Linked DNA regions of Homo sapiens. The protein of the gene in region 4 purifies or fractionates together with the protein of the main gene of each other region. This does not show direct contact. Each region holds a gene or a part of one and is shown on either strand. Other genes may lie near its edges. The genes, in order: ACAD11, MYH2, LUM, TTC4, TXLNG, PYGM and SERPINC1.

Evidence for each region.
Region 1: the proteins of TTC4 (region 4) and ACAD11 purify together in Homo sapiens (affinity purification with mass spectrometry; one study listed by BioGRID and IntAct). This does not show direct contact.
Region 2: the proteins of TTC4 (region 4) and MYH2 purify together in Homo sapiens (co-immunoprecipitation; one large-scale study listed by IntAct). This does not show direct contact.
Region 3: the proteins of TTC4 (region 4) and LUM purify together in Homo sapiens (co-immunoprecipitation; one large-scale study listed by IntAct). This does not show direct contact.
Region 5: the proteins of TTC4 (region 4) and TXLNG fractionate together in Homo sapiens (co-fractionation; one large-scale study listed by BioGRID). This does not show direct contact.
Region 6: the proteins of TTC4 (region 4) and PYGM purify together in Homo sapiens (co-immunoprecipitation; one large-scale study listed by IntAct). This does not show direct contact.
Region 7: the proteins of TTC4 (region 4) and SERPINC1 purify together in Homo sapiens (co-immunoprecipitation; one large-scale study listed by IntAct). This does not show direct contact.

Annotation. Positions count from the first base shown.
Region 1 is NC_000003.12:132,558,810-132,562,309, reverse strand, and holds part of ACAD11 (acyl-CoA dehydrogenase family member 11), read left to right. Parts: intron 1-1,092; coding exon 1,093-1,209; intron 1,210-2,367; coding exon 2,368-2,477; intron 2,478-3,224; coding exon 3,225-3,339; 3' UTR 3,340-3,500. UniProt on the Homo sapiens protein: Acyl-CoA dehydrogenase, that exhibits maximal activity towards saturated C22-CoA.
Region 2 is NC_000017.11:10,525,659-10,529,158, forward strand, and holds part of MYH2 (myosin-2), read right to left. Parts: intron 3,422-3,500; coding exon 3,032-3,421; intron 2,217-3,031; coding exon 2,090-2,216; intron 1,399-2,089; coding exon 1,280-1,398; intron 1,138-1,279; coding exon 941-1,137; intron 219-940; coding exon 35-218; intron 1-34. UniProt on the Homo sapiens protein: Myosins are actin-based motor molecules with ATPase activity essential for muscle contraction.
Region 3 is NC_000012.12:91,102,129-91,105,311, forward strand, and holds the end of LUM (lumican precursor), read right to left. Parts: intron 2,192-3,183; coding exon 2,037-2,191; 3' UTR 501-2,036; downstream 1-500.
Region 4 is NC_000001.11:54,718,861-54,722,360, forward strand, and holds part of TTC4 (tetratricopeptide repeat protein 4), read left to right. Parts: intron 1-2,302; coding exon 2,303-2,380; intron 2,381-3,500.
Region 5 is NC_000023.11:16,817,466-16,820,965, reverse strand, and holds part of TXLNG (gamma-taxilin), read right to left. Parts: intron 2,393-3,500; coding exon 2,089-2,392; intron 803-2,088; coding exon 711-802; intron 1-710. UniProt on the Homo sapiens protein: May be involved in intracellular vesicle traffic. Inhibits ATF4-mediated transcription, possibly by dimerizing with ATF4 to form inactive dimers that cannot bind DNA. May be involved in regulating bone mass density through an ATF4-dependent pathway.
Region 6 is NC_000011.10:64,753,475-64,756,974, forward strand, and holds part of PYGM (glycogen phosphorylase, muscle form), read right to left. Parts: intron 2,085-3,500; coding exon 1,973-2,084; intron 1,882-1,972; coding exon 1,799-1,881; intron 1,363-1,798; coding exon 1,219-1,362; intron 872-1,218; coding exon 779-871; intron 552-778; coding exon 405-551; intron 209-404; coding exon 45-208; intron 1-44. UniProt on the Homo sapiens protein: Allosteric enzyme that catalyzes the rate-limiting step in glycogen catabolism, the phosphorolytic cleavage of glycogen to produce glucose-1-phosphate, and plays a central role in maintaining cellular and organismal glucose homeostasis.
Region 7 is NC_000001.11:173,907,328-173,910,827, forward strand, and holds part of SERPINC1 (antithrombin-III isoform 1 precursor), read right to left. Parts: coding exon 3,427-3,500; coding exon of another isoform or gene 3,304-3,426; intron 2,616-3,303; coding exon 2,225-2,615; intron 188-2,224; coding exon 123-187; intron 1-122. UniProt on the Homo sapiens protein: Most important serine protease inhibitor in plasma that regulates the blood coagulation cascade. AT-III inhibits thrombin, matriptase-3/TMPRSS7, as well as factors IXa, Xa and XIa. Its inhibitory activity is greatly enhanced in the presence of heparin.

The DNA.
Region 1 (3,500 bases), on a different chromosome or scaffold from region 4:
AATATGGTGAAACCCTGTCTCTACTAAAAAATACAAAAATTAGCCAGGCATGGTGATGGGCGCCTGTAGTCCCAGCTACTCAGAGGCTGAGGCAGGAGAATCGCTTGAACCCAGAAGGTGGAGGTTGCAGTGATCTGAGATGGCGCCACTGCACTCCAGCCTGGGCGACAGAGCCAGTCTGTCTCAAAAAATAAATAAATAAAATTTAAAAACTGGCAACAACCGAAATGTCCTTCAACAGGCAAATGGATAAACCAACTGATACATACTTACAATGGAATACTACTCAGCAATAAAAAGGAATGAACAGTCAATACACAGAACAATTTGGATGAAACTCAAAGGCATTAAACTGAATGAAAGAAGTTGGTCTCAAAACAATACATGCTATATGATTCTATTTACATGACATTCTGGAAAAGGCAAAACTATAGTGATGGAGAACCTATCAATGGTTGCCAGAAGTTAGGAGTGAGAGGAGCCTGTGACTAAAAAGGGGCAGCACCAGGGAGTTCTGTGGGAGATGGAACTGTTCTGTGTTCTTGACTGTGGTTATTCCAATCTATACATGTATTATAATTCAACTGTCTACTAAAGAAAAGGTCATTTTTAATGAATAAATAACAATAACAACACAGCAAATTGCTGCTGAACTGTCCCCACACTGAAATTGTGCTGAGAATTTTCTAGTTTACCTGTAAGCAGCTTCACTACCATACATTTAGCCAAGTTTCCATGACAGCAGGCAATTAGCATTCAGGAGGGCCTTTGAGTGGTTTGGCGGTAAGGCAGTTGCTCAGTTCAGCCATCTTTACCTTAGACATTAAGATATCCAAAATAAATGATTTTTCTGGGAAAATAAAATTTCTTTCTAAAATATTTCAATTTTAACTGTAAGCATTCCACAAGTATGTGGTTAGGCTGGTGTATATCAAATGAATTAACTCTTCCATTTAAAAATACATAGAGTAAAGCTTGTGAACAATCTCTGGCTTAGAGAGTGTTTTCACCAAACTATAAGACTGTGTTACACGTGGACATCAGATACCAGCTTAGCTCCTCCTTCTTTTGCTGCCTTTTCCTCCCCTATAGGAGGTTGTGGCTCACTGGATTGCTGAAAGCCGCATTGCCATTGAGAAGATCCGCTTGTTGACTCTGAAAGCTGCTCACAGCATGGACACTCTGGGCAGTGCTGGCGCTAAGAAAGAGGTGAGGCTACCTTCTCCCCTCAGACCACCAACTGCTGAGCCTTCTCCAGTTCTCTCACCTGTTGGACATTTCAGTTTTCATGGCATCTTGATGGCACTCAGAATATTGGAAGCCCCCATGTGATTTTGGGTTATAAATTATAAATGCCTGTCACTTGCTAGTCTCCTAGCAAGTGCTTTAGGGAATGATTTTCAGGAGGGAGAATATCTTCAGCATTCTTAAGATACAGCAACAAGGAATGGGGGAAATCATAGGCTTTACACAGCCCTGGAACTGCACCCACTCTGCCACTTTCTTCTAGCCTTGTGATCACGGGCAAAGTACTTAACTTTTCTGCCTAAGGCCTAGGGTTGTTGTGAAGAGTAACCAAGATGATGTACATAGAATGTGCAGAAGCCACGTACAGTGGCTCTCGCCTGTAATCCAAGCTACTTGGGAAGTGGAGGTGGGAGAATTGTTTGAGGCCAGGGATTCGAGACCAGCCTGGGCAACATAGTGAGACCCTGTCTCTTAAAAAAAAAATTAGCCGACATGGTAACTTGTACCTGTAGTCCCAGGGAGGCTGAGGCAGGGGGATTGCTTGAGCCCAGGATTCTGAGGCAGCAGTAGTGAGCTATGATCACACCTGGGAATAGCCACTCCACTCTATTCTGGGTGACAGAGTGAGAGCCTGTCTCAAATAACAAAACAAAAAATGCACAGCATGATACTGCTACATAGTAAATGTTTCATGAAAGAGACCTCTCATCCTTTGCTTTCTTATGTTTCTGGATTATATGAAATAAAGACATAATCATTTAATTCTAAAAGCCCATAAAACTGCTAAAAGAAACCTGATTAATAGCGCAAAGACCCTTGGACTATTTTTATGATCCCTAAGGTGATGAGTGTGATTTATCAGCTGCCTGAAATCCTTTTGGAAACAAGACAAGTTAGAAATAAATGGATAAAATGTGATTTGGAAGAGGTGTCTCTTTCCAGAGGGTCTGTATTGACTGAAATATGGCATTGCAGCAGGATCTCTTTGTTGGCTTTTGTTAAAGATCCTGTTTTAGTGGTGACTTGGATGTGGGAAAGTTTCCTTGTTTCATTTCCCAGTTTTGCCACATTGTGTATAGTCTAAGAAAGAAGCATTCTTTTCATATTTTGCTTATATAGATTGCAATGATCAAAGTGGCTGCCCCACGGGCTGTCAGCAAAATCGTTGACTGGGCCATCCAGGTGTGCGGAGGTGCTGGTGTTTCCCAGGATTACCCTCTGGCTAACATGTGAGTAGATGTCATTTAAGAATCATCTACGTTTGATAGGCGTGGAGGTAAAAAATCTACAGATGCCTTGACATTAATTGCTTATGTTTATTTTCAGTGTAATTGAAGGCTAAATGAAGTGATATACATTAATATAGAGCTCAACACCAAGAAATAGTTGCTCTTATTATTACAATAATCATTTCATTCCATTATGTTAATTTTTACACTGAGGGGTCCCACTGAGGATTCCTGGGCTGTAGATACAGCATGGGGTTTCGCTGAATTTGTAGCAGGACATGTCAGTGACTATCTAATATATAGATCCTGATGACTGGGAGGCAGAAAGGAACATTCTCCATTCCCCATCTGTCCATCTCCACACATAATTACAGTGTCACCTTCTCTATCACAATGGAGATAGAGTCTCATCCTTCATCAATTTTAAACCTTAAGAAAGAACTAAATATATAGTATCATACCAGTCACTGCCTGTTCTAAGTTCTAGCAACATGTAGTAAACTGTAGCAAACCAAGAATGAGATGAACTCCACTGTACTTTGGCATTTAACTTTCCCAAGTTGGAAACTTTAAGATGGCATTGCAGAAGCCCTTTAGCTTATTTTCCTGGTACCCTTTTTCTTACCCTGACCTTGGTGGAATTTAAGAATTAATATAGTCTTGGTTGACAATCAGAGTGACTGATGTCAAAGTATCATGTTCCTCTTCCATAACTCCCTGTGTTCCCTGATTCTTTTGCTTTTTCAGGTATGCTATAACCCGAGTTTTGCGTTTAGCAGATGGACCTGACGAAGTTCATCTTTCAGCAATCGCAACAATGGAGCTGCGGGACCAAGCCAAAAGACTGACAGCCAAGATATAAGGAGGGTGGCACTGCCACATCCCACTGGCAGAAACTCTCCTTTATACAAACTTCATTGGCTCCAACATTTGAATCTCATATTTTTGTAGCAGTTTGAGCACAGGGTTAATTATTCATTTGTGGTAAAGATTATAGCATCTATTTTGATCAGTGGGTTTTAT
Region 2 (3,500 bases), on a different chromosome or scaffold from region 4:
TAGAGTAAAGAGCAGAAGATGCTGGAGGAATTACCTTATCGAAGTTCCTTTGCTTTTTGTCAAGGGCGGCACAGGCGGCATTTGTCCTCTCCACATCAAGCATGAGGTCCTCGACCTCATTCTGCAGCCGCTGCTTCGTCTTTTCGAGGGAAGCACATTTGGCGTTCACAGCTTCTACATGTTCCTCAGCTGCCTGCAGCCGCTGGGCCAGCTTCTTCCTTGAATATTATACATGTTTTCAGAGAGAAGTGAACCATAATATGAATTATGAGCTATTGCCACACACGCTGAAGAGTGTTAGAAACTTCACATTAATGCTGCCCAGCCACCTTTCATTCTTTCAACAAATATTGATGAGCCCCTTTTATGAACCAGACACTGGCTACGCAGCAGTGACCAAGACAAAAAAGATCTCTGCTTCATGAAGACCACAAACAAGTGAGAGAGGTAAACAATAAGCAAATCAGAACATCCGTAATAATACCTTACAGATACAAGTGCAATGAAGCAAAATAAAATAAATGGTGGGCAACTACTCTAGATATTCAGTGAAGGCCTCCATGAAGAGATATTTGAGTCAAGAGCTAAAAGTCAGAGAGCCAAAGGGAAGTCTGTGGAGAGGGTATTTCAGACAGAGAGAAAAGCAGGTACAAGCCCCTGATGCAGCGATGAGCTCATTGTGCTTGACAAACAGCAATGAGGCCCCTAATTATCAGTGTAATTATTTGCTCTTCTTTGTTTTCTTAACTAGATTTTAGGATCGTAAGGCAGGGACCATATTTGATTTATTCATGTCTTATTCTCAGGGCCTGATTGTGACTGGCACATAAAAGCAGATTAATGAGCATTTGTGGACTAATTCACTGAATCTTCAAAGGTCATGTCTTTCTGATTCAATATGCAAAGTTTTCTGCTCATTCTCTCATATCTGTGCACATACTTGGCCTCCTCCAGCTCCTCTGTGCGCTGGATGGCGTCCGTCTCGTATTTGGTCCTCCATTGGGCAACCTCGGTGTTGGCCTTGGACAGTGCTCTCTGCAGCTCGGCCTTGGATTCCTGCTCCTCCTCATACTGTTCCCGCAGCAGGTCACAGTCGTGGCGGGAAGACTGCAGGGCATGCGCCAGGGCGTTCTTGGCCTATGGAGGCAGTTACACCTTCATTTTACTGGATATTTAAATATTTAACTCTTAACTTTCAAAACCTTTTGAAAGCTGGTATAACAGGCTCCATGTAGAATCAGCTCATGAGGGAAAAAATCAGTCTTAGAATCATAATTACTTTTATCTCCTCTTCAAGTTGCCTCTTTAATTCTTCAATCTGTTGAGTAAAGGCTTGTTTGCCTCTTGATAACTGAGACACCAGAGCTTCCTTTTCATCAAGCTGGCGTGAAAACTCACCTGATGGACAAAAGAAATGGCACCATTTTTTAGGTGAAAAACAAGATTCTGCAAGCCCATGTTAGAAAGAAATTTTGACTCTTATTTTCCCAAATTGAGTGCTCAGATGGTTGAATTCTATACTGACATCTTCATGCTCAATGCAGGTTTTCAGTTTTTATGGTGAAACTTTCAGATCAATCGGAATGAATAAATACAGCTTAAATTCCTTTTGTCCTTTCCATAACTAATTCTTTCAGAATTATATGATATTGTGCAAAATCTGGTGAGGACTGTCAAATGAGTAAGCTAAAATGTCTAATTCTACAGGGTCCCCATTCCATAGGACTTTTGAGAGACTGGGATATTCATTGCCCCATTCTGGAAGTTACTTGACCCTCATATAAATAAAGAGAAACTTGGCCTGAAAGAGAAGCCCTGAACTCATGCTGGAGTAACCGCTAATCCCAGCATCCTCGCAATGAGCAAATACTCAAGGCCATTCTGGAACAGAGCTTGATTTTGTCCTATTGAAACCTTTATCTCCAGCATTGTCCCAAGATGACCTTGCACATAGGTCAGGTGTCTGAGCTGTTCAGTGAATCAGACATGTTCTCAGCTGTTTTATTAGGCTCCCACTTCACCAAATCAGTCCGTTGTTCTTAATCACATCCTCTCCACCCTGAAGCTGCACAGAAGAGGGGAGAGTTACCAGATTCAGTCTGCAGGCGCCCCCTCTGCGCAGTCAGGTCATTGATCAGCCGCTGCTGCTCCTCTTCCTTTGATTTCAGTTCACTCAGTTGGTCCTCTAGAGTCCGGCACATTTTCTCTAGGTTTCCCTATAGAAGAAAAAGTAAAAGAAGAAAACAGAGACCTTTTAAGCGAATAATAATCACCTTTGCAGTTACTGTAACTTCTCCCCAAAATAAAAAATACAATATTTATCTTAATATAGAAAAGAAACCAAATTATCTTATATGTAATGTAATGCAGAAAAATTTTTCTTTCTTTCTTTTTTTTTTTTTTTGAGACAGAGTCTTGCTCTGTCCCCAGGCTGGAGTGCAGTGGCGTGATCTCGACTCACTGCAACCTCCGCCTCCCGGGTTCAAGCGATTCTCCTGCCTCAGCCTCCTGAATAGCTGGGACTGCAGGCGCGCGCCACCACACTTGGTTGACTTTTCTTATATTTTATGAAAGCTAATCATGGAGCTCTGTTCAATATTAATATGAAAATGTTAAGGTTATATTCTAATTTTAAGATTTTGTTAGAATTGTATAGTGTACATTTTCTAAAAGCATGTTCTAAAATACTTCATTGCCTTTATGTACGATGAAACTTTCCTTATTTCAATTTCCTTGAAATAATTGGAGACCTTTGTTCTATAACTGGAGACTTGGAGAACACAGATGGCTTATGTTCAAAAGCTGGTGTTGTCGTTTATTAATGGCGTGATGGGTCAAAGTGCTTGGCCTCTTTGAATTTCTGATCCTTTATTTGTTAAGTTGAAATAATAAAAAATGCTGATTTTTTGTGCTTACTTCCCTGAATTACTGCAGTTAACAAATGACTTAATGTGTAAAAAGTGCCCTGTGCAAACTATGATGTGTCCATAATGCATTATTTTCAATAACAATTTCCCAGAATTTGTAGTACCTTGGCTTTGGAGACCGTTTCTACATTACTAGCAAGGTCATCAATCTCCATCTTCATCTCACTCTTCTCCTTCTCCAGCTTCTGCTTCACTCGCTGCAGGTTGTCAATCTGCTCCCCAAGCTCGGCCACACTATCTGCATGCTTCTTCCTCAGGGTGGCCGCTGTGGCTTCATGCTGTAGGGTGGCCTCCTCCAGGTCCCTGCGCATTTTCTGGAACTCAGCCTCCCGCTTCTTGTTCATCTCAATCTGGGCTGAAGTGGCCCCACCGGCTTCTTCCAGCCTCTCGCTGATCTCCTCCAGCTCCCGGGAGAGGTCAGAGCGCTGCTTCTCTGCTTTGGCCCGGGAGGCCCGCTCTGCCTCGATTTCCTCCTCCAGCTCCTCAATGCGGGCCTGGGAATGGTGGAAAATACAAACTCAGCTTCTTTGTGTCATAACTGCCTCCGAGCCAGACTGATGAAAATCATGTACT
Region 3 (3,183 bases), on a different chromosome or scaffold from region 4:
AAGTTTCACCAGATTTTCTTCCCTCAGCACCTCACTAGGGCTGCCCAGTGAGTGAAGGAGTAAGTGGGAATCTTCTCTTCTCCAGCTTTGCCCTGAAAAGATGAAGTCTTCCCTCTAAAAAGAGGAGTTGTTCCTAAACAGGGTATATTCCTTTCCCAGATGCTTCTACAACAAAGTGTCACTAAGTGCTTAACTTTGTCTTTGTCAACCAACATTAACTACAAAGGGAACTGCTGTTTTAAAAGTCATAGTTTTGCTTCTTAGGCATGAGAATAACATAGGACTTTGGATAGAGAGAAATCAAAGGCTTTTAAAGATGCAGACAGACTGTCTGCTGAGAAGATGTTTCCTCTAAGTAGTATAGAGACAAAGCTCATTTAATTCCATCACATTCTTTCTAAAAGAGAATTTATGGCACATTATCTACCCTCTATTTGAGAATAGGTTTCCAAGGCTTGATAGTGACTTTTGTAGACAGGGAAAAGAAAATTCATTTTCAATTCATCTACATTATAGTTTTATCGAGAAAAAGTAGATTTCAAGTTTAAACCAACAAATAAACTGAGGCTGCTATCACACTCTAAGGAATTTACCTTAATGTAGAAAACTCATGAAAATCAAAAATACACATTGTACCTAATGTAATATCCATCGCACATATCTGCCAGTCAACTCAGTCTCAATGATGATCCTCTGATGAAAGGCCGCTGTACCATAAGATAGAGTTCACTAAAAGTGGTGTGTTAAAACATTTTATGCCTTAGAGATACATTTTATTTGTACTAGACACATATTTGACTATATATACACTGGTATGGGATGAGCAGACCTTTGTCTGCATAACATTTGGCTCCACACATAGGTTTTATTGTTAACTAGGTAAAACAGAAGTTATTTTTATAAATTATATGCAGAGTATTTATCATTGTATAGAATTGTATATACTCATAGAAAGCTGAAAGCTGTTATTACTGGATTATGAACTCAAAACCTATGATCCAGACATATTGGCTTCAAGCTAAAATGATTTTTTAAATATCTATTTCAGAAAATTTTATATTCATTCATTTTTAATCCTGTGAGTTATCCACCATTTCTTGACAACCAAGGAGTGAGTGCTGAGATCACATAGCAGCTTCTTATCTAATAGAATACCATTGTATATGAACCAGTAAAAACACCAGGAATGGGAATAATGACAAATATCTAAGTAAGTTGTGAAATCTAAGTACCTATTATAGGTGTTTTTAAGAACTCTTTGTAAGTGAATGCTAGAAGTAGACAAATTATTTAGTGGAAAATCCTATGTTCACATCAGTAAAATATTGCAGGCCAGAGATATCTTTTGATTTCTAATCTATTGTTTTATGTATTTTATATACAAAGTACAGAAATTTCACAAGAAGTCAAACACAGTGATGCCATTTGCTATGTTTTATTTTGCTAGTAGCTTATTAAACATAACATGCAAATAATCAAAGAGAAACATACATGACTTAGAGTGAAAAATAATTCTAGAAAAGTTTCACTAGGTAAGTATGCAAATTCTTATTCTAAAAATACTTCTTTAAGTGCATGAAGCTTCATGTATTTTGCAATATTCTTGGCCTCAATATCTACCACCTATTTTTTAACCAGACAAATTTGAATGTATCAAGATAATTTGGTGCAAGAGAGTAACATCCATATGTATTTAATCCAAGCTTTGAGGAACATTAAGATTTAAGGATTATAAAACTTGGCTGATTTCCATGCAACCAGTAAAAGGTTTTGCACATCATTTGACAGTAGAAATAAAAAAACACTAAATTTACAAATAAAGCATTGAGTTTGATGTCTATTCGTGTATATGTGTGTGTTCTTGTGATGAAATAGGCCTGCCTTTCATCTTTTCTTTAAAAAAAATAAATGTTTACAAAACATTTCCCTCAGATTTTAAAATTCATGGAAGTAATAAACAGTAATAAAATATGGATACTATGAAAACTGACACACAGAAAAACATAACCATAAAATATTGTTCCAGGATACAGATATTAATTAAGAGTGACTTCGTTAGCAACACGTAGACATTCATACATATCCGGTGGAAGACTGGTTTCTGAGATGCGATTGCCATCCAAACGCAAATGCTTGATCTTGGAGTAGGATAATGGCCCCAGGATCTTGCAGAAGCTCTTTATGTCAAACTCTAAAAATTAAAGAATAGAAAACATTAATCATTTTTCAGTACACTGGCTCAAAACAATACAAAAAATTTATGTTTAATATATTATAAAATAGGACCTCTTCCCATTTAGAAAAGTCATAATATAGTATATGTTTGAATTTGCAACCATTAAAGGCATATTTCAGGCTACCAAAATGGCACAGTAACATTTAGTAAAGAGTAATCATGGTAGATCAAGATATTCAGTGGAATATTTTAAATAACAGAACTTATTTTATTACTAGAAGTTGTTTTTAAAAAGGCATTCAATAAGTGTGTCATATTATCTAACAACTTTTTTGAAATAGTATAACCTGAAGAAATATAAATGGATCCCATTGTTGTATGAACAATCTCAGTATAAGTACTCTTTGGTTTTACATCTAAAAATAAGAAGGGTTAACTAGATGATCTATAAAGAATTTTCTAGCAACCACATACCATGACCATGATAAAAATTCCAAGACAAAAACCAAATCATTCCAGCAATCACACACCATAGCAATGATCAAAATTCTAAGGCAAAAACCTAATCATGGCATGTCCACCATCTGAACTCATGTTTTTGTTTATTTGTTTATTTTTGTCCATGGTCAAAAAGCTGCCACAAATGAAACACTGACTTACTTTGTAATAGAAACCAAGAGTGTTACTGAATTGACTGACCTGTGTATACACAGAAACTATGTTTGCCTATGTCTATTTTAGATTAACATTTTCAAGTCCTTTATCTTGTTTTCATTTTCAAACTCTAGTTAACAAAGACTTCAGTGGAACCCCAAACACACATGCTTTTTAAAATAACTCATCAGTTAATTCCAGGGATTTTTCTATGGTACCAACATTTGAGAAAGTGAGGAAAAATGGAAAGAAGATGGGCATAGTCCCATCTTGGAATTCTACCTCTGCCACTTACCCAGGTGGGCAACACTGGAACACTTATCTGATCTTGTTAGAAATAACACATCTATCTT
Region 4 (3,500 bases):
AAGTGATCCACCTGCCTTGGTCTCCCAATGTGCTGTGTACTCAGTGGACCTTTTCAGTCTGGAAACTCATGTTTCTAGGACATTTTCCTGAATGCTTTGATATTTTTCTTTTTCTTTTTTACTCTTTTTTCTCTTTTTGGAAATCCTGGCTGCTGGTACTTTGGGAACCAAGTAGGAGAAGAGGACCAAGGGCTCAATCTTTAATATTTCCTTTACTGAATCACCTTTGTGCCTGGGGGTTCCAGTCCAGAGACCTACTGTTTTATTGTCTGCTAGGGTAAACCTCCAGTCCTCCACCTGGAGGAACAGGGGAGGAGTAGGTCACTGGTGCAGCAGAGGGGTAAGGAATATGGGACTCTGACTGCTTCTTAAGTAGATTTTCAACCCACCTTCACCCCCACTTCCAGAGGTACCTGGTGCCATCAGTTCCTGAGTCCTGAGTACTTTGTAGTTTCTGCAGTGCAGCTTGGTAGCTTTTGTGCTTTCCCTCTACTGGTTTAGAATTCAGTTTCCTTAAGCCTGATACATCAGTTACTTGTTCCTTTGTTTTCCAGCTTTCACAATGTGTTCTGTGTTCTTCTCATTTTCTTTGTCTTTATGGGAGAGAGAGTGGGGATTGAGTTAAATGTATGTGTTCAATCTGCCTCCTTTAACTAAAAGTCCTTGGATCCCTTTCATGTGCATTTTTTTCCATGGTTGAGATCCTGCTGTTCTTCCAGTTTGATATTCAGTTTTTTCACTTAATTTTATAACAAACAATTTCACCGTCATTAAAAATCATTTCTGAATGTTATTTCAATAGCTAAAGTTGCATCATATGGACATGCCACTATTTATACTGTTTGCTTTATTAGTCTGCTATTGTTGAGTATATAGACTGTTTTTTGGTTTTTATAAATAATGCAAAAATAAATAAAGTCATAATATTTTTCTGATAATTCTGATTATTCATTAGGCTAAAGCACGATTTGGCAAACTAGGACTCAGAGTCCACCCCTGGCCCCTTGGCTTGCCATGAACTAAAAATGTTCCATACTTTTTTTTTTTTTTTTTTTAAAGTGACAGGGTCTTACTCTGTTCAGGCTGGAGTGTACTAGCTGTGATCATAGCATAGTGCAATCTTAGACTCCTGGGCTCAAGCAATTCTCCCACTTCTGCCTCCCGAGTAGGTAGAACTATAGGCATGTACCACCATGCCCAGCTAATTTTTAAAAAATTTTTTGTAGAGAGAGAGTCTTGCTATATTGCCCAGGCTGGTCTTGAACTCCTGGTCTTAAGCAATCCTCTCACCTCGGTCTCCCATAGTGCTGGGATTGCAGGAGTGAGCCACCTCCCCAGAGGTTTCTTACATTTTTCAAGAATTGTAATAAAATGAAGAAGAATGTGCAGTAGACCACATGTGGCCTGCAACACCTAAAATATTTATCTGGCCCTTTACAAAATATTTTGCTGACCCCTGGGCTAGAGATTTAGGTAAATACTAAACCATTAAGTAATAATTATAGTATACTCCAGAAAGTTAAAGTATACCTCATGGCTTGCTAGTTTGGATAACTGGTATGTGTGTGACTGCATACTTTTTTTTTTTTTTTAATGCACTTACAAATATATACATGTGTGTCTAGATATTTAGTTTTTTTTTTTTTTTAAATAGGCTTCCTCTATACTCATAGAACCACCACTTAAAACAATATAGAACAGACATCCTACCGTGTTTCTTACATGAGGATCTATCTCATTCTTTTTAATGGCTGCATAGTATTCAATAGTATGGATTTACCATAATTCATGTAATCATTACCAAATTGAGGATATTTGAGTTATCTCCAGCTTTTCACAATTAAAGTAATGCTGTAGTTAACATGCTTTTACATTTATCCCTGCACATTTGTTCAAGTATTTTTGATAATTTTCCAGAAGAAAATTGTTGTGTCAAAGTATATGTACAAAATACATGCTAATTTGCTTTCTAATTTACCCTGAGAGTACCCCTTTTCCATATCTTTTCTAATACTAGATATTATTTGTCTAACTTTTAGCAATTTCTTAATTTTAATTTCCTAATCATTAGTGATGTTGAACGTCTTTTCATGTGCTTACTAGCCATTTACAGTTCTGTAGATTGCCTGTTATAGACATTTCTAAGGCTCTTGACAAGTACAACCATATTTTTTCAAAAAAACAGTTGCTCTCATTTGTATTTCCCCAGGATTGTACAAGAGTGTCTTTGTCACTACATATAAAATTTTGGAAACATTTTGATCTCAAAACTTCTCTCTTTTACTAAACGGTGTTTTGTTAGGCAATTTTCGTTCTGCTCTCAATGATGTGACAGCTGCCAGAAAGCTAAAACCCTGCCACCTCAAAGCAATAATAAGAGGTAAGTCTTGTGGAACTACAGTATGACATTTAAAGCTTTGATATGAAGGTGCTAGGATACTAATAAAGTCATCTTATTTTTGCAGTCTGGGTATTAAGTTCCTGTTCCTTATCAACAGCAACATGCCACTTTTAAAAGAATTCCTCAGAGAGTGACTTAACCCTTTATGTAATAATAATTTGTAGAGAACTAGAAGCCCCTCATTTTAAATTAATAAAAAATAAAATTAATTAAAACAAAGCAGTTGCAAAGCCATATTCTGATTTTTTTTCCAAATTAGCTGATTGAAAGGCAAGGTCTTCAAATGCCATGTTAATGTTAATTAAAAGATAAGTTATGGGACCTTTGCTGATGACTTTGGTGCTGAGATGTTCTCAGATTATGTTTTCTCTTGTAGTCTGACCTTTCTATGTAATAACAGTGCTTTTATTACTTTTATACTTCACCTTTTCTTTGAGAAGCTCATAGGTGCTTTGCAAACTTTAATTTATTCATCACATATTAATCTTCCCTGCATCCCCATGGACCAGCTTAAAATGCTTTTTCAAAATTATGCCTCTTTAAATGTTCATGGTTAAGGGCAGTAGGAAGATCCATGTCCCTCAGCTGTAGGAAAAGAAGGTACTGAACAAAGATTGGCTGATAAATTGAATCTAGGTAATCCTGTGGAATTTGCCTCAGGCTAGAAGTGTGTAATCCTTGATTCAGTTGTTGGTTTAATTTACAATGTGACCTTGGCAAGACACCCACTTTGAATATCAGTTTGCTCATCTCTAGAAGATGGGGTTAGAATCTGTTGGCATCTAAGCCCTTACAATGCTTATATTTTGAAATTCTGTGGAAAACCTAAAGAGGCTAACTGGAGAAAAATGTACATGATAACATGAAATTTTTTTTTTTTTTTTTGATGGGGGAGAGGCAGCTTAAACTGGTAGCCATAAAGAACAAAATTAGGAGACACCTAATGTTTTTGGCCTTGCCACTGCCTTGATGAATAGCTGAAGCAAAGTCTGCTTTTTCCCTCCATTGAAAAAATCATCTGGGATGGACTTTATTCTTCCTGTTTGCAGATGAGGAACCTAAAGCTTGGATATGCTTGGTCCTTTGTCTAAGGTCTAGC
Region 5 (3,500 bases), on a different chromosome or scaffold from region 4:
AACCCCATCTCTACTAAAAAATTAAAAAAACTAGCCAGGCGTGGTGGCGAGCACATGTAGTCCCAGCTACTCAGGAGGTTGAGGCAGGAGAATGGCGTGAACCCGGGAGGTGGAGCTTGCAGTCTGCTGAGATCACACCACTGCACTCTAGCCTGGACCACAGGCGAGACTCCGTCTCAAAAAAATAAAATAAAATAATATAGCTGAGAACAAACTCTTTGATAAGGTCACTGTTTCTAGAAAATGGAAAAAAGGATGCTTGACACATAGTAGATGCTAAAGAAGTATTTCTGAGACAAAGTATTGTTTTAGCAGATGATTTCATGTAACTCACAATCTCAATCAAAACAGTCCTCAATCTCTAGAATTCCCTTAGGAAAAGTTTAAGACAGGAACCACTACACCCCAACTGAGTGGCACCTAAGGCATCACAACATAGCAATGGAAAGGCTGACTTAGACTCTAAAACTGAGTTTTAGAAAATCTATGCCACATCTTAGTATTACAATGTTCCCTATATATTACCTCATAAAATGAAACTATACAACCAATAAAAAGCCCCAACAAAACAGATTCTCTTCTTCAATTTCAGAATAAAATATAATTTTACATTTAAGGCCATATCAAATTTGTACTTTAAGAAACTTATCAAGCACACACACATTTTGTTATATTTTATATGGCTCTCACATCCTTGGCTTAATACTCACAAGATCAGCATATTTCTTACAGAGAGCTGCCAGCTTCTCCTCTGGGGTTGAAAGGGTGTTTAGGGCTTGCATCAGTAATAAAACTTCTTTTCCTGATGGTTAACAAGAAAAGAAATAAGTCCCAGAAGAATGAGATCAAATCTAACCTGTAAATTCTACTAACAATTCCCGTGCTCTGACATCCAGAGTAAACTAATTTACACCTATGATTATAAATAAGAGATTTACCAGCTCAATGAAAAAGGCAATTTTTAAATTCTGGATTAGCAGGCCTCGCTCCCCTCCCCATACCCACCCCAAATTTCTTAACTCATTCACTAACACTGCGAGCTATTTATAAGAACTCTTGTTAAAAGCTTATAAATTTCCTTGCCTAATCACTGATGTCCAAGTTAAGACAAAGGGCAAGTTACAAAGGGCATGGAATTTTTTTTAAAGCTTCCTCCTAACCAAGTTCGAATATAGAAGCAAGTTCAAAGGGAGTTTCAGTTGGTACTACACTTTGCCAAAGACACACATAATCACAGGAGAACATATCTTTTCCTACGAACAATTTAAAAACGTGTGCTTTTCTTATGATTTACTAAGTATATTCTGTGTGTTAACTAAGGTTAACTAACCAAAGGATGACAAGATAGCTCTTCCTGTGGGGAAAGACCTTAGCAATACTGTAAGGACTTTGGCAGAGAGAGGCAGGTGGCTGAGATTAGGAGGGGACTAATGGCATTTCGAAGTAAGGGGTAATCTTTTATTTCTTAAGCTAGGTGATAGGTACCATTTTTATTTTTTTAATGTTCATTCTTATATGTAAGATATTGCATCAAAATATATATCTCAAAATAACTCTGACATACAGACTGCTATGGGGGAAAAAGGGTGACTTCAAAAAAGAATGCTTTTCTACTCACATAAAATTTTATTAATGAAATCTTCTCTCATTTAACCCAAGGCCAATAAGACCTTTAAGAGACGATTAAACACAATTACTGAAAATGATCAGAAATAACTGCAATGTGGCCGGGCACAGTGGCTCACACCTGAAATCTCAGCACTTTGGGAGGCCGAGGCAGGAGAGGACTGCTTGAGCTTAGGAGTTTGAGACCAGCCTGGGCAACACAGTGAGAACCTGTCTCTACAAAAAAAATTTTTTAATTAGCCAATTCTTGATTATTTGGAAAAAAAAAAAACTAAGCGTCCTCTCTGCTGTTTTCGCCTCCTGCACATAACTGCAGCAGACACATGGACTGACCTCACCGAAGACACTAGGGGTGTTGGCTAAGCACCTCTAAAGTGGCTGTGTTCAAAATTATCTGGGCTGCAGAAAACACAAGTAAAATGATTAGCATGTGAAACGTCCAACCACTGAACGGATTATTACCTAAAGTTTTTTCTTTGTTCCTGTTGCACTCTGAATCTTGCTGACCATCAGGGGGATCTGTTCGAGCTTCTCCCCCAGGGATTTCCTCTCTTGATTCTTGCGTGCAGTATGCTGGGCTCACCAAATTCCTGTTCTCTGTTATAAAGTCACTGCCTTCATCCTCTTCCAATGAATGCTTGTTACTTGTGCCACCACAATTTGAGCCTTGATGTTGAAGAATATCATTTGATTGAGAGTTACACAACATATCTGCTTTCACCCCTAGCCCACAAATTCCAGCTTCTTCCATTGTGCCAATTTCAAACTAGAAGAAAGGAGAAGGAGAAAAAAGATGGAGAAGGGGTTAAATCTAATGTAATCAATGTTTACAAGCAATGGAACATCATAGCCTGATAGTTTTTTCTTCCTTAGTGGTTTGCAAAATTGATGTAAATATGGTACTTTCTAGGTTTCACTGAGAGGTGACCTAACTATAAAGTATAAGGAAATTAGTTAAAATGAATCACACAACTATTCAGTACCAAAGGAGGCAAGAAACCCATTTAGTTATAAATCTAAATTGATTTCCACATAAAAATTCACCACTTAACATAATTAGCACCTTAACAGAAGTGAAACTGTCCCCAGTTAATGAATATTAATTATTCTAATCTTATCCTCAAGGAGACAGTACAGCAGGGATGGCTAGCTAGCTATCCATCAAAACCCCATGCTCCCCCAAGTTCCTGTGGAGTTGGCACTATGAGACAAGTGCCCAGCCAGGGACTATTCCCCAGCCCCCTTACACCAAGGGGCGACTTCCACGTGAAGTTCCCACCAACTGAATGTGGGCATAGGACACGACTGTCCAAGACTTTTATTCTTAGAAGCACAAGTTCTTTCTCAACCATCTCTCCCCGACTCTGGCAAAATGCAGACATCTCCAAGACCCTAAGGGATGGCAGAGCCACAGGATTAATGAAGCCTAGGCCTCCATATCCTATGTACATACAGGAAAGCCACCCTACTTACAAAGAAAACCTACACTGGACTATAGGTGAACAAGAAATAAACTTCTCTCATGCTAAGCCATGGAAATTTTGAGACTGATATTTTAAGCAGCTATCCCTGCCCTAATACACATGGTAAAGATGCCTTTATTCCAGTATGTTATTCTTATGTCAGTAACTGTCTTCTATCACATTGTTAACCCTATTTGAGTTTTTTCCCCTTGTGAACACTTCCTGGTCATGATGTGGCACAAATTTAAATTCTGTGCATTTACTCTCTGTATGAAAGAGGGCCTCTTCCTTTTCTGAATAATACTGTTGAGGTGAGGAGGTGTTTAGTATCCTTCTCTTATCACAAATGGACAAAAGCTACTTTCAAAATTTATGGGAGAGCAGATATTTGAGATTTTAGGTTATAATCAT
Region 6 (3,500 bases), on a different chromosome or scaffold from region 4:
GGGTGGGGCCTAGAGAGGGGCGGGATCTGGAAAGCGGGGCTCACATGGTCTTCTTGAGGATCTCGGAGTGGATGCGCGCCACGCCGTTGACGGCGTGCGACCCCGCGATGCACAGGTGTGCCATGTTGATGCGCTTCACTGCGCCCTCCTCCACCAGCGACATGCGCCGCAGCCGGTCTACGTCCCCTGGGAATGCGGCCGCCACCCGCTGTGCCCAGAGAGCCCAGAGCTAGAACCAGACCCAGGAACCCCCATCCCCAGTCCCCAGCCCCACACCCCCAGAGCTCTGCCCAGTGCCCCCACTGCCCCAGAGTCTCAGGGCCCTGGCTGGACGCCCCGACTCCCAGGCCCAGACTGGGTGTCCCCCCTCACCCCCACACCATCCCCCAAGCCTCCGGACTCACGTTGAGGAAGCGCTGGTTGATCTCGTAGATGATCTGGAGGTGCCGCGGCAGCAGCGTCTCCAAGAGGTGCACCGGCCAGCGCTCCAGGGCCTCGGGCAGCACCGTGTGGTTGGTGTAGGCACAGGTCCTCACTGTCACATCCCACGCCTGGCACACGGGGTGGGCAGTCAGGATGCTGACCTCAGCCCAGTGGGTCTCCTCACACACTACGCATCCCAGTGGGCCCCCCCACTGCAGTGCCAGGTTCCAGGACGGTCCCTCTGGCCTCAGGCTCTGATCCCTTCACTCCATTCATATCCTCCCACGCTCCCAAACTGGGAAGGGAACCCCGAGGCAGAGAGCATCAGATGGGGCAGAGGGGCCCTGAAGCCCACCTTGTCCCAGTCCATCCGTTCCAGGTCCACCAGGATCCTCATCAGCTCGGGGATGGCCAGGGAGGGGTGGGTGTCATTGAGCTGGATGGCCACCTGGGGTAGGGGGAGGGGTCAGTCTGGGCTCCAAACCACATTCCATGCTATGGTCACTGCCCTATGCCATTTGGAGGCCCCCAGAGAGCCCAGCACGGTTCTGTGACTGGGCTGTGGGCAGAGGCAGGCCGGTGCTCATGGGGGTGGGAGGAATGGGGGGAGTGGGGCGGGAGGAGGAGGGAAGCCCAGGTTCTGAGCCTGTGGATTGTGAATCCTGAACAACTGACCCTCCCACACTCCCAGTCTCCACTCCCTTATCTATTACATGGGGCAGGCAGGCCGAGGCTGGAGGGAGAGGCCTAGCACACACTGTCCGGTCACAGAGTCGCCCTCCACACGCATGGTACCTTATCTGGGAAGGCATCGAAGTTCGTGCGCACGGGATCACGGCAGCCGAACTTGGAAGACTTGAAGCGACGGATGATGTCCTGGAGGGTGGCAGCCACCACGAAATACTCCTGCTTCAGCCGCAGCTCCTTCCCTTCGAAGAACTGGGGACAGCATGAGGCAGCGTGAGTCAGGGCGGTGGGGGCATGGCCTAAAGCTGCGGTGGGTGTGGCCAGGAGGGACTCCCACCCATACCGGGACCCCTGAGCCCTGAGCCGGCCCCCTCTCTGGGACCCAGGGGCCTTTCCTCCACCAAGAACTAGTGGCGAGAGACAGTGTCAGGAAGAGGGGTACAAGAACCGAGTGTGTTGTGGGTGTCGCCAGGGAACAGCCCCTCCAAAGTGCCCTTCGCTAACCCAGTTTCCTCAGGACTCAGGTGTCCTTGCACTCAAAAGACTTGAGGTGGGGGCACAGGATGCACAAGGCCAGCAATATGCCCTGGGTGTGACTAGGGCACCAGCAAGTGTCCTTCCCCAGCTCTCCCTGACCCCTGCTGCCAAGGACTCAGGCTTCCAGCCCCCAGCCCAGGGGGTGACGCACATTATCATTGGGGTACAGGACACGAGAGATGTTCTCCGCCAGGTTTCGGTCCAACACAGCCTGGATGTAGCCACCGACATTGACTGAGGGACAAAAGTGGGGACAGGGTAAGGCCTGCGCTGGGCGTGGCCGGCGGGCAAGCTGGGGTTGCTGGCTACCAGTGGATGAACTCACAGTCCTTGAGGTTGAAGTCATTGGGAGCCTTGGCAGACCAGAGGCGCATGGTGTTGACAACATTGTTGCGATAGCCAGGCACGGGCGTATCGTAGGGCATGGCCAGTACCACCTGCGGGGGGCAATCCTGTCAGGAGCTGGCCAGCCCTGGCAATTGCCTCCCTCCCCTCAGGGCTGGGACTCAAGGCTTTATCCCTGCACTCTGCAGACCCAGGCTCTTGTCCTTGTCTAGCATCGATGAGCTGGGTAACCATGAGCAAACCCCATAGTCTCTCTGGACCGCATCTAGAGCAAAGACACCCTCAACACCTCCCCGACACCCATAAGCCCTGCCTGGGCAGACGGTGGTGAGGAAAATGGAAGGAGGCAGGTGATAAGCCCGGAACCCAGGAGGGGCTCTGTTGGCGACCACTCTGCAGCAATGGGGGCTGGGCTGGCCAGCCTGGCCTGAGCAAAAGCTAGAGGACACTGTGGACTCATGAGAGGGCTGGGGGAACCCAGGGCCAGGCTGAAGGGGTCACAGAGGTCAAGTCCATCCAAAGGTCTCATCTCTGGTTGACCACAGGGCTAATTCACGGTGACTAATTCTGCCCCGCCTTCCATAACTAGCAAACATCAATAATTGTCTGCTACCACGGTGCCAGGGGTACATTCACTCCTCTAAGCGAGCCCTTTTAAGGGGCATCGCCCTCCCTCCCCACATTCAGTCACCCTGATTGGTGCAGGGTGGGAGTTGACACAGAGAGAGGGAAGGGACCCATCCCCGAGCACACAGCCAGGCTGGCAGCACCAGAGGGAGCCAGGTCTCCTGCCTTCCAGCCACAGCCACTTGTGCCAGTTGCCACGTGCACCTGGCATGGACTGCCAGCAGCCCCCACTGCATCTTAACCTGGAGGACAACAAACAAATGCTCAGTTCTGAAAGCCTAGTGGTTTATCTGCAGCCCATCTGGGGGCTGATGACCTGAAGCTTCAGCAGGAAGATTGCCTGAACTGGGATTTGTTTTTTGTTTGTTTGTTTTTGAGATGGGACCTCACTCTGTTACCCAGGCTGGAGTGCAGTGGCACTATCTTGGCTCACTGTAACCTCCACCTCCTGGATTCAAGCGATTCTCTGGCTTCAGCCTCCTGAGTGGCTGGGATTACAGGCACGTGCCACCATGCCCGGCTAATGTTTTTGTGTTTTTAGTAGAGACTGGGTTTCACCATATTGGTCAGGCTAGTCTTGAACTCCTGACCTCAGGTGATCCACCTGCCTTGGCCTCCCAAAGTGCTGAGATTACAGGTGTAAGTCACCACGCCCGGCCTAAACTGGGATTTGTACACCTGGTTTGGTTTTAAGGTTTTCAGTTTTTGGTCTTTTTGCTTTTTGAAACAGTCTCACTCTGTCACACAGGCTGGCTGGAGTGCAGTTGTACAATCATAGCTCACTGCAGCCTTTAAATCCTGGACTCAAGTGATCCTCCCACTGAAGCCTCAGAGTAGCTGGGACTACAGGCATGCACCAGCACCCTGGCTAATTTTTTAAA
Region 7 (3,500 bases), about 120 Mb from region 4:
TTATAGCAGGCCTGTGGAGGCCTTTTGCATGCCTTAACACTGGAAACAGGCCTTTTCCACGTGTTCCTGCTGTTCATGCATCTCCTTTCTGTACCCTAAGAGAGTGGGGAAGGTGTACTCACCTCAAGAAATGCCTTATGGAATGCATCTGAGACATAGAGGTCATCTCGGCCTTCTGCAACAATACCTGGAAGGAAGACCGGAGAAGTCTTTGTGAGATGGGAGAAAGTTGGCTTCAACCCACAGATGGGAATTCAGTTTGGATTAAGAGATCCTTTGGGGCTTTTTGAAACATAAGAAGAAATCCTAAATCTTCACCTAATCATACTCTCACAATGAATATGTGTTAAAAATAATAAAGTACTTTGGGGGCTGGGTGCAGTGGCTCACACCTGTAATCCCAGCACTTCGGGAGGCCAAGGTGTACAGATCACCTGAGGTCAGGAGTTGGAGACACTCTAACTAATATGGTGAAACCTTGTCTCTATCGTGAAAATACAAAAATTAGCCAGGTGTGGTGGCGCATGCCTGTAATCCCAGCTACTTGGAAGACTGAGGCAGGAGAATCGCTTGAACTCGGGAGGTGGAGGTTGCAGTGAGCCAAGATCACGCCACTGCACTCCAGCCTGGGCAACAAGAGCAAAACTGCATCTCAAAAATAATAATAATAATAATAATAATAATAATAATAATAATAATAAAAGTACTTTGGGCTTGTTCAGCATGGCTCCTGATAATTCATTCTCAGGCTTCAGCTTTTTGTGGGAGAGAGAAACGGCAAGACTCTGTTCTTACAGAAAAAACTCACTCCATCCAGAAGGAACATCTTTCTTTCCAGTCTGGCAACATTTTTAGTTTTCAAAACTAGCTTAAAGACAGCCCAATAGCACAGTGGCTCACGCCTGTAATCCCAGCACTTTGGGAGGCCAAGGCAGGTAGATCGCCTGAGGTCAGGAGTTCAAGACCAGCCTGGCCAACATAGTGAAACCCCGTTTCTACTAAAAATGCAAAAATTAGCCGGGCGTGGTGGCAGGCGCCTGTAATCCTAGCTCCTTGGGAGGCTGAGGCAGGAGAATCACTTGAATCTGGGGGGTGGAGGTTGCAGTGAGCCAAGATTGCACCACTGCACTCCAGCCTGGGGGACAAGAGCAAGACTTCGTCTCAAAAAAAAAAAAAAAAAAAAAAGGTCAATAAAGATAAATCTAATTACTTAACATCGTAAACTTATTTTATTATTTATTTATTTATTTAGTGATAGGACCTCACTCTGTTGCTCAGGCTGGAGTGCAGTGGTGTGATCACAGTACACCACAGCGTTGACCTCCCGGACTCAGGCAATCCTCCCAGCTCTGCCTCCCAAGAAGCTAGGACTACAGGTGTGCGTCACCATGCCTGGCTAATTTTTTTTATTTTTTGTAGAGACCATCTCACTATGTTGTCCAGGCTGGTCTCGAACTCATGGGCTTAGACGATCCTCCCACCTCAGCCTCCCAAAGTGCTGGTATTACAGGCGTGAGCCACCCTGGCCAGCCAACTTCTTTAAAAGATATTTTAATGTGCCAGGTGCGGTGGCTGACGCCTGTAATCCCAGCACTTTGGGAAGCCAAGGCAGGCGGATCACAAGGTCAAGAGTTCAAGACCATCCTGGCCAACATGGTGAAACCCATCTCTACTAAGAATACAGAAATTACCAGGTATGGTGACGTGTGCCTGTAATCCCAGCTACTCAGGAGGCTGAGGCATGAGAATCGCTTGAACCCGGGAGGCAGAGGTTGCAGTGAGCCGAGATCGCACCGCTGCACTCCAGCCTGGGCAACAGAGTAAGACTCTGTCTCAAGTAATAATAATAATAATAATAAATGTCAGTGAGGCCTGTGTAATGGGAACCACATTTCCCCAGCTCTTAATATCTGTCTCTTTGCTCTGAATTCCAATGCCCTTTCAAATTCCTCTCCACCTGGTCCCATCTCCTCTACCTGATACAGACTCACAGGGCACCAGTGCTAGCTGGGCCCATGGAGATCCAAGAACAAACTTCCCTTTTACAGAAGAGGAAACTGAGGTCTCAAAAGGAAAAGAGATTTCCACAAATTAGCAGTAGAAACTAGGATCAGTATCCAGGAGTCCTGACTTGTTGCTCCTTTCTATTCTTTCTCCAACTCTTCCACTTTTGGTCAGACTACCTTGCGGGTGGAGAAGGGAGGAAACTCCTTCCTAGACAAACCTGGGAGTTTGGACTTTTCAGGGCTGAACAGATCGACAAGGCCCATGTCTTGCAGCTGCTCCTTCAAACTGAAGCCGTCCTCAATGCGGAAGCGGGGCATGTGGACCACCAGCATCATCTCCTCCAATTCATCCAGCCACTCTTGCAGCACCTCTGGGGTGAGTTCCTTCTCTACCTTGGCCAGGCTCTTCTCAGGCTTGGGCAAGATGAGGACCATGGTGATGTCATCACCTTTGAAGGGCAACTCAAGCACCTGGGTGCCTTCAGCCACGCGCCGATAACGGAACTTGCCTTCCTGGTACATCATAGATGCTGAACACGACTCTCCATCAGCCTTGTAGAACAGTTCCTTCCTTGTGTTCTCAGGGCTGAACTTTGACTTCCACAGGCCCTGGAAGAGAATCACAAAGTAAGAACACAAACATTCATAGGAGGATAGTTATTGACACAAGACATATCCATATTATAGTGTTACATTAATATATAATTATTCGGAAAAAAGACTGGCGGGATATGCACAAAAAGGTTAACAATGGCTGTGTCAGAATGATGGAATTATGAGTAGGTTTATTCATAACTGTCAAACCTTGGAAGCAGCCAAAATGTCCTTCAGTAGATGAATAGACAGACTGTGGTACATCCAGACCAAATGTAATGCTATTCCATGCTAAGAAGAAATGAGTGACAAAGCCACGAAAACACAAAGGAACAGTAAATGCATTTTACTAGGTGAAAGAAGCCAATCTGCCGGGCGCGGTGGCTCATGCCTGTAATCCCAGCACTTTGGGAGGCCGAGGTGGGCAGATCACGAGGTCAGGAGATCAAGACTATCCTGGCTAACACGGTGAAACCCCGTCTTTACTAAAAAAAAACCAAAAAATTAGCCAGGCATGGTGGTGGGTGCCTGTATTCCCAGCTACTTGGGAGGCTGAGGCAGGAGAATGCCGTGAACCCAGGAGGCGAAGCTTGCAGTGAGCCGAGATCACGCCACTGCACTCCAGCCTGGGCGACAGAGCGAGACTCTGTCAAAAATAAATAAATAAATAAATAATAGATTGACCTGCCCTGCTGACCTGTACCTGTGTAGCTTTCGGCAGTCCATTTGCCCTCTCAGGGCTTCGGTCTCGCCATTTAAAAAAAAAGGGGGTAAGCTGAAGAGCAAGAGGAAGTCCCTGGGGTCTCTCCAGGGCCATTCTGAGTACCTTGAAGTAAATGGTGTTAACCAGCACCAGAACAGTGAGCTCATTGATGGCTTCCGAGGGAATGACATCGGTGA